2 separate regions of the Homo sapiens genome follow, and region 2 is linked to region 1. The links come from fine-mapping of genetic effects on gene expression. A gene starts in region 1. The other region holds a variant in brackets. All regions are shown on one strand. Distances are between the middles of the regions.

The links. PIP is the estimated chance that this variant, and not a neighbour inherited with it, causes the effect.
Region 2: its variant is the best candidate, but not a certain one, in a credible set for the expression of MOB3C in whole blood (GTEx, PIP 0.57).

Annotation. Positions count from the first base shown.
Region 1 is chr1:46,614,356-46,618,745 of GRCh38, forward strand. MOB3C (MOB kinase activator 3C) reads right to left here and starts at 2,456. Exons shown (of 4, transcript NM_201403.3): 1 at 2,356-2,456. RefSeq lists an enhancer at 1,881-1,950 and a silencer at 2,351-2,630.
Region 2 is chr1:46,590,989-46,595,378 of GRCh38, forward strand. MKNK1 (MAPK interacting serine/threonine kinase 1) reads right to left here. Exons shown (of 13, transcript NM_001135553.4): 2 at 3,125-3,292. Among named protein-coding and RNA genes, the nearest start is that of MKNK1, 11 kb to the right of the region's middle. The variant C/T (reference allele first, on the strand shown) is at 2,203.

The DNA.
Region 1 (4,390 bases):
TATCACCATGGATTTAGCCCATCCAGGTCCTGGGTCACTCTGCTATAGCTAGGTTTCTAAGACCTGAGTCATCTCATCTCAACTGTGAGTGTGTGAGCTACTGGGAAATGCAGACCCATGTACCTACCAAAACTAGAATTTAGCCACCCACTAAGCACACTGCCCCTGCCCCTAGACTGAGCACTAAGGCTGAGTATAAGCTAAGAATTGCATTCTGGTTCCTGGCTGACCTCTGACCTGGGCTCTGGCAAGTGTGAGCCCTGACTCTAGCCTTTAGCCCTACCCTGAGGCTTGCTTATGGCCAAAGCCTGGGCTTGACCTCTGACGCTGGAGCACTGTCCTTTCTCACATCTCTGGTAACCCTGGGACAGGATTGGGGAAGGGAGGGTGGGAACCAGGTGACACCTGGGTAAAAGCAAAGGGATGGCACATATTTCGGGGAGGGGTATTACTTCTGGCAAGAAGTCAAACTAGCTGGGGAGCTGTTTGAGACAAAGGTCCTTCCTTGAACCCACAAAGGCAGGCCAGGATGGGGGCAGTCTGGTAAAATGAGAGCAGCTTGGAGAGTAGAAACAGGCCATTCAGCAGGAACTTGTTCTCTTGAAAAAAACTCACAGATGTGAAAGGTCATCTCATCCATCCCGACTCTTCGACTTCTCACCCAAAGAAGTCCCCAGGGTGGGACCCCAGTTTCCAGAGCAAAGAGATTTCTGCGCTTCATTTGCCATCTCCATTTTAAACTCTGCTTGGGGCAAGTGCTTCCAAAATCCCTCACACTGCAATTAGGCGGGGCTCCTGGGCTCCCCACATTGCATGGCCCCCTTTATGACAGTTAGAAATAGGCCCCCACCCTGGCATTCAGCACCTTGTCCTACCTTTCCTGCCCCACTTCCCACCTCCCCACACCAACCACCCTGGGCTTCTTCCTGATTCCTGAACACGCCCCCACTCTTTTGCCTCTGCATGTTTTCTTATCCCTCCACCTGCCTGACCACACATCCTCAGATTGGCTGCTACCTCCTCCCACAGCCTCCTCTCCTGAACTCAGATCTCCTTCTCCTTGGGTAGAGGCTGCTTTTGGTCATTGCAGTCTCCACTCCATCCCCAACCCACCCCCAGCTTAGGACAAGGCCTGGCACAAAGTCAGTGTTCAGGCTTTAAGGAAAGCTTAGACTAGAATCTTAGAGTTAAAATAGCCCTGATAGATCAGCTGGCCCAACTCACTTGTACAGATGGGGAAACTGAGGCCCAGATGAGGAAACTGAGGCCTAAAAAGAGGACTTGAGGAGCCTGTGTCCACATAGCAAGTTACAAGCAGAACTGGGAACTGGGATAAGGTGGGGCTCAGCTCATGACCAAGAGTAAAAGACCATTTTCCTGCACTGGCTCATCAATGGTCTGGTGGAGACAGAGAAGAGGAGGGGAGTGGAGGGACAGTGGAAGCATCTTCTCCACCAAACAGCCCAACCTGCTTCCTGTCCCCAACACACTGACTCCGCACAGCAACTGGGGTGTCCTGACCAGTGAGCTAGAGTTCCACCTTACTCCTGTGGAACTTCAAGGCCTGGGTCTCTTTCCAGGAAAATGTAAGCTCAGGGGGTGGGTGCAGGGCAGGTGCTCTTCTAGCCACAGGGTTAACTCCCTTCACTCCCCACCCCCATGCCCTCACTGAGTTTCTATCTGTCACAGAACCTCTGTCTCTCCCTGAACCACTGCCGTTCCCCGTCCTAGCCCCCATTTCCCAGTGATGGCTATCCTTTCACTCCTGGAGTGGCAGTGCCTTGCTCGTTCCCTGGGTGCGGATCTGGGCTTCTCAAATGAAGACAGCAGGCTGACCCTACCTGTTTCTGATATTTAGCCCCCTGCTAGGCTACATCTACCACTCCTTGGGCCTGGCCCAGGATCTGGGCCAGAGGATGGCCCCAGTTTGAACCCAGAATCCATCCTGGGACTCTCTCTAGGACAGAGGTCGAAGAGAAAAAGTAGAGGCGAAGACTCCACGCTCTCCTCGCGGCGCGCAGCCACCCACGCCCACCCCCGGCTTCCCTGCAACCTCAAACCAGCTCCCAGGGCCAGGAAGGTCGTAGGACCCAGAGGAGCCCGCCTGACATTTCCGCTCCCCGAAAACACGCCCCCCAACCCCTCCCCTCTGCCCCGTACTCCCCCACCCCGACAATCCCCCCCGCAACTTTCGAAGCTCTGAGCCTCGGACGCCAGCCTCAGGACAGCGGCCAGCCTGCCTTCGGGCGGGACTCTCCTCCGGACTGTGCCACGCCAGGACGGCCGAAGAAATGAAAGTGGAAGCCAGGCGGGCGGGGTGCGCGGCGAGGCCGCAGGGGCACGGCGCACACTCACGGGTCCTCTTCTGGCCGTGGGGTCACATTCCCAGCCACAGGATCGCCTTTCTCCTGCAGGTCCCGCAGTGCCTGTTCTCTCTCCTGTCAGCCTGTCCGTCTGCCTGTCCTGCCGGCCGCGGCTGCCCTCCTGCCCCGGGCGACGCCAGCTCCGCCCCGGCCCCGCCACGCCGCGGCCACGGGGCGGGGAGGGGCGGAGAAAGGGGACTCCCCTCCACTCCAGTACACAGACGCACTCGCCCCCACCTTCCCGGAAAGTCCATATGGGGCTCCCAGCTTCCCCTTGGACAAAGGACTAACTGAGCTGCCCGCCCTCTCGGTGCTTCCTTGGACCTCCACCAAGGAGGCAGCCTCAAGTTCCCAGACAGTAAAATGGGAAAACGCTCGGCTTCTTCTGGAGCAGAAACAAGAGCTGCTAGATAAGGGTGGTTTCTTTGCCCTCCTAGAATCGTCTGCGTCACACTTGTCCCGGGACCCAATAAGGGATCGGGACCGTCCTATCCACTCCCATATCCTCAGCTCCTGGCACATAGCAGGAACTCAAAACCCACTTGATGAATGAATGAATGGGTGAGTGAAGGAATAAATGAACGCCTTGGGAATCATGAGCTGAGTCCTTCACCCCTGAGGGACAAGCCCCAGAAGAGCGCTCAAATCACAAACTTCATCTCCTCACCAGGGAGGGGGCCTGGCTCAGGTTGGGCTGATTCTCCTTGCTCCTTACCCAGAGTCACCCCATTTCTTATCTCCAGACCCTTATCCCAGCTGTTCCATTTTAGAATACCTTCTCTCCCTCCTTCCTTCTGACAAATCCAAACCACTCAAGATCTGATCTGCTCTCCCTACCACCTGGGTTCCTTCGAGGACAGACAGATATCCCACCAGCATTCAATGCACACCGTGGCCCCCAGGCCCAGGGACCAGTTGGCTGCTCTGTCTGGGATGGGAGGGAAGATTGGAGGCTTTCTAGGGTAGGAAGCCCAAAGCAGAGAGCTTAGCCATAGAAGCCACTCTGGAGGGGTGGGAGGTGAGTAGATGCGGGTAGGGGAGAGCTGGAGGCCAGAGGTGGGCATTTACCATGGCACACTGGACCTCCCTTGTGTCTGGACCTTCTGTTGCTGGATGACATGAGAACACGCTAGATCCTTAACCCAGATCATATCCTTTGCAGCAACATGGGCTGGAGCTGGAGGCCATTATCCTAAGCAGACTAACACAGGAATAGAAAACCAAATACTGCATATTCTCACTTACAAGTAGGAGCTAAACAATGAGAATACATAGATACTAGGAGGGGAACAGCAGACACTGGGGCCTGCTTGGGAGTGGAGGGCGGGAGGAGGGAGGATGAGACAAAAATACCCATCAGGTACTATGCTGCTTACCTCGGTGATGAAATTATCTGTACACCAAATCCCCATGACACAGAGTTTACTTATATAACAAACCTACACATGTACCCTTGAACCTAAAATAAAAGTAAAGAAAGAATCCCAGCTCATAGAACTGTGGGTATGTTCTTTTGTTGAGCACCAATTTTTGCCCCAGTCTAAAGTTCTCTGTATTTTTATGTCTGACTCTTAACTCTCTGCCCTGAATCCCCTATAAACAAACACTTGCTTATGGAGCAAATTAAACTATGCTTCTTTATTTATTTGATATCCTAATCAATATCTTTTATTGAGTATAACTCTCCACTCATATCAGATCAGGGGACTGGGTGATAAAGCTGACCTGGTTGCCGACCTCAGGTGCTGACAGGTCAGTAAAGGGGACAACACACAGAGATACACAAGGTCACAGCTCAGTCACCCAGAAGTGAGAATGTGGTTGTGGACTGACGGACTTTGTAAGAGTCGGGGTATTTGCAGGAAGCACATGGAACACCCAGAATGGGTATGTTTAATGAAGACATTATTTACAGGTATGGTCAAGGTGTAGGGAAACCACACAGTGTATCACCAAAGGGCTCACAAGAGCAGAGGCTGTCAACCCCAGGCTGCAGGAGTGTGGGGAAGGAATGGTGAAAGTGGGAG
Region 2 (4,390 bases), 23 kb before region 1:
TGAGCTACCAACCAAAGTCCACCTACATTATTTCATGGCAGTTCTGGTGTCAGGGACAGGCTACGTTCTTCTGTCTGACCCATTAGTGGGAAGATTTGGTTTTGTGGCATCATGATTATGCTGGGACAAGGAAAGGGTACACTCAAACAGACACTAGTCAGATTTAACACATGATGGATGAAAGGAGCCACTTGTAAAGTCAGCTCAATCAAAGGACCGTCTGTCCATAGCGATACTGCAAGGGGCTAAGGTATTCTTTCCCCAAGAGTCTGGTGTGAGGGGAGGCTGGGCTGCAGCATGCAGGTGGCAGCATTTCACTCCGCTGCAATGAAACTGGCAGGTGAGGCCTGCTAGGGTGCCAGCAAAGGATCCCCCACAGGCCTCAGACAGGACTGGGGGCCTGAGAGTCCTAGAGACAAAAGGTCACAACTCCAGTCCATCTTCTACCTCTGTTCTGATTCTGGGATCACAGGCAGCCTTCAGAGCTGTCACTGCATCTCCTGGTGGAAGGAACAAGAGGAAGGACATGGAAGGGGAGAATGAAGTGTGTGCTGAAGAAAGAGCAAGCAGGAGGAAAGGGCTGGATGGGAGTGGGGAGCAGCGTGTAGAAAGCTGACAAAGGTGGGCTGCGCTCAAGGCCCCCAAGCACAAACGCAGCCCACGAGGCTCTCCAACCCCAAGCCCCTGTCTACCTTCCAGCCTCAGCACCCAACACAGCCATTGTTTCATGTAAAAATGAAACTAGTGGCTAGTTTCACTTGCCATTCAAGGGATCCCACATGTGCTTTTCCTTGCTTTTCCTTGAGTCAGGTGCTATACTTTGGTTTGCCGCAGAAGTACTTTATGAGCATTTCTATTTTGTTACACAGAATATTAAAGAGATCCGTACTCAGGGTTGGAATTCAATAAAACTGACAATTTTTGCTACTTCATCAAAGACATTCTTGTGTGAAAATGGCATTAAAAAAAAGCTGGGTGTGATGGCTCATGCCTGTAATCCCAGCACTTTGCGAGGCTGAGGTGGGCAGACCACCTGAGTTCAGGAGTTCGAGCCCAGCCTGGCCAACATGGCAAAACTCTGTCTCTATTAAAAATACAAAAATTAGCTGGTTGTGGTGGCAGGTGTCTCTAATCTCAGTTACTCAGGAGACTGAAGCAGGAGAATCACTTGAACCCGGGAGGCGGAGGTTGCAGTGAGCCGAGGTCATGCTGTTGTAGTCCAGCCTGGGTGACAAAGTGAGACTCTATCTCAAAATAAAAACAAAAACAAAAACCTGGGAGTACATAGCAGTGGAGAATATAGTGGCTACTGGCACAGTTCAGCATCACCACCTTGACCAAGGCACCAACAGTCTTACTCATTGTTGCTTTCCAGCAACAGACAGCATCTTAGTACGATTACAAAAATCATTTTAACTGTGCAGATTCCTAAAGGAGTTTTGGGGACCCCCATGGTCTGCAGTGTATGCTGCGAACCACTGGCCTAGGTGATGGGGAGGGACTGGGTGTGACTGGAGCTGTGCCTGGGGGCCACGGAACTGACTGTGATGTGAAGAACAAACTGGAGGCTAGAGCAAGAGGGCTGAAAGAGGCTGCTGGAACAGCCCGGGGCAGGGTGAGAAAGGCCTACAACAGAGACAGGGAGAGCAGGGAGAGCAAGGAAGAGGAGGTGAGGTGTGTAACAGAGTGAGGGAATGAAGTCATCGAGGCAGAACTGGTTCTAGTCCTACCAAATGACTGAAGAAGGTGGGGGCAAAGACCACAGCCCTCCTTGAAGGAAGGGACAGTGTTTAATTCCTCTGTATCCCCACTGCCTAGCATGCAGCCAGGAAGAGGAGGGCCTCATATACTTATGATTACATGTTTATTAACCAAAGTCAGGTCACCATAACAACAGTAGGACCATCAAACAGGGGGAAAATTCAGGAAGTGGAGCTGGCTGGGGACGGGGAGCAGGGAAAGACAATGGCACCACCGGGGACCTTCAGATGAAGAAGGGTGACACACAGCCACCAGGGACTATGAAAACTCACCGATCAGGCTAAAACCACTCTCACTCAGCCCTCATCTGACCCAAATCTGCAAATGAGGCATTATTCATAATCTCCCAGGCATGACAAAACCTCTGGTGACAGTGTAACACAGAACACTTCAAAATGTCATCATATATATCATATATACGTTAAAAAAAACCTGAAAAGA[C/T]ACATCTCAAATTATTATTATGTTTTGAGCTACGGTCTCGCTCTGTCATCCAGGCTGGAGTGCAGTGGCACAATCTCGGCTCACTGCAGCCTCCGCCTCCCGGGTTCAAGCAATCCTCTTGCCTCAGCCTCCCAAGTAGCTGGCACTACAGGCGTGTACCACCATGCTTGGCCAGTTTTTAAATTCTTTGTAGAGACAGTCTTGCTATGTTGCCCAGGCTGGCCAAATTATTAGCAATGGTTATTTGGGGAGGGACAGTGTCTAATTCCTCTCTATCCCCGCTGCCTAGTATGGAGCCAGGCAAAGAGGGGCTTCATATACTTCTGCTGTATTTTATCTTGTTTTGTTATGAAGTAGTTGTTTTAATTTCATAATTAAATAGATCTGGCCAGGCGCAGTGGCTCATGCCTGTAATCCCAGCACTTTGAGAGGCCAAGGCAGGCAGATCACTTGAGGTCAGGAGTTTGAGGCCAGCCTGGCTAACATGATGAAACCCGTCTCTACTAAAAACAAAAATTAGCTGGGTGTGGTGGTGCACGCCTGTAATCCCAGCTACTCAGGAAGCTGAGGCAGGAGAATCGCTTGAACCTGGGAGGCAGAGGTTGCCGTGAGCGGAGATTGCACCACTGCACTCCAGCCTGGGCGACAGAGGGAGACTCTATCTGAAAAAAAAAAAAAAAAAAAAGTAAATAAATATGTTTTAGTTACATGTTTTCCTTATGACCCTTCCATGTCATTCTGTAGAAATGTGTTCCTCCTACTAAGCGTTATCTGAGTCGTACCAGGGCAGCTCCGCTATTCCTAGCTAACTAACTAAGTGCTGAAAACCACGGTCTCTTACCCGCCCTTTCCTCTGGATGTATCAGATCATTTCAATTTGAAGTAATCTAAAAGGATAACTAAAATGTACACCCAATCTTACCTATAGGTTTTTCCAACTTTTGAGAAGATACCATCTGTAAACTTGAAATCCCAAATGAAATAAAGCTCCTGTCAGGAAGTTGGTGTCTTCCAGCTACACGAAGTGTCTCAATGGCCTTTGTGCGTAGGTGGCAATCTTCAGTTCTCCATCGGCCTCTGACATGGAAACCTTGAAAAAGCAGAAATAGAAAGGAAATCAAAATGCTGACTTCTTTAAAAGGACCAGAAAAGAGAAAGATCAATCTGAACGTGCCCCAAACCTATGAGTTACCCCACTAAGTAGATATACACGCAGCAATCACAGGTTTCCCATCTTTAAAATCAGACATTTGAATTAAATTTTTTGTAGAGATAGAGTCTTGTTATGTTGCCCAGGCTGGCCAAATTATTAGCAATGATTATTTGGGAAGGGGTGGCTTCTAATTCCTCTCTATCCCCACTGCCATTAAGCACTGGAAGATTTAACAAAGGTCTGAGTGAAATTTTTCAGATTCTGTTTCCATTATGGGATTCCAGACCCAAAAAGATGTAACTGGACCTGGATGATAGAGATAAGACACCTCTGCTCTGAGGAGTCTCAGGCAAAAGATAAAAGTTGACAGGCCAGGTGTGGTGGCTCATGCCTGTAATCTCAGCACTTTGGGAGGCTGAGGCAGGTGGATTGACTGAGCTCAGAAGTTCAAGACCAGCCTGGGCAACATGGTGAAACCCATCCCTACAAAAATACTAAAATTAGCCAGGCATGGTGGCACACACCTGTAGCTGCTTGGGAGGCTGAGGTGGGAGGATTGCTTGAGCCCAGGAGGTCGAGGCTGCAATGACCCAAGATCATGCCACTGCACTCCAACCTGGGTGACAGAGCGAGGCACTCCTCTGCTATCCACGTTTTTAGAGAAATGAGCTGGGCTCTCTCTCTTAGTGGCCAAGTCCAAGTCTCACAGGCAAGAGGAAACAGAGCCCGAAAGATAAAGTAGATGCTGAGAGCAGGAGGTGGCATGAATGGGAACAAGGTTTTGTGTCGAATACATAATTATTGCTAGTTTTCAATCTGATGACTTCATTTTCTCTATGTTCACTGTTATTTTAATACCATGGCTCTAGCTATACAAGTCAAAGTTGCTTTGTCAACTTCCCTATGAAATAAATATGCATTTCCCCTTTTCTCGGTGGAAAAGCCCTGAAAATGCAGTTTAACTCTGAATTCTGAGCCAAAATTTCTAAAAAGGCTTTCTAACTGGAAGTTGGGTGTGTTTCACCATGACCTCAA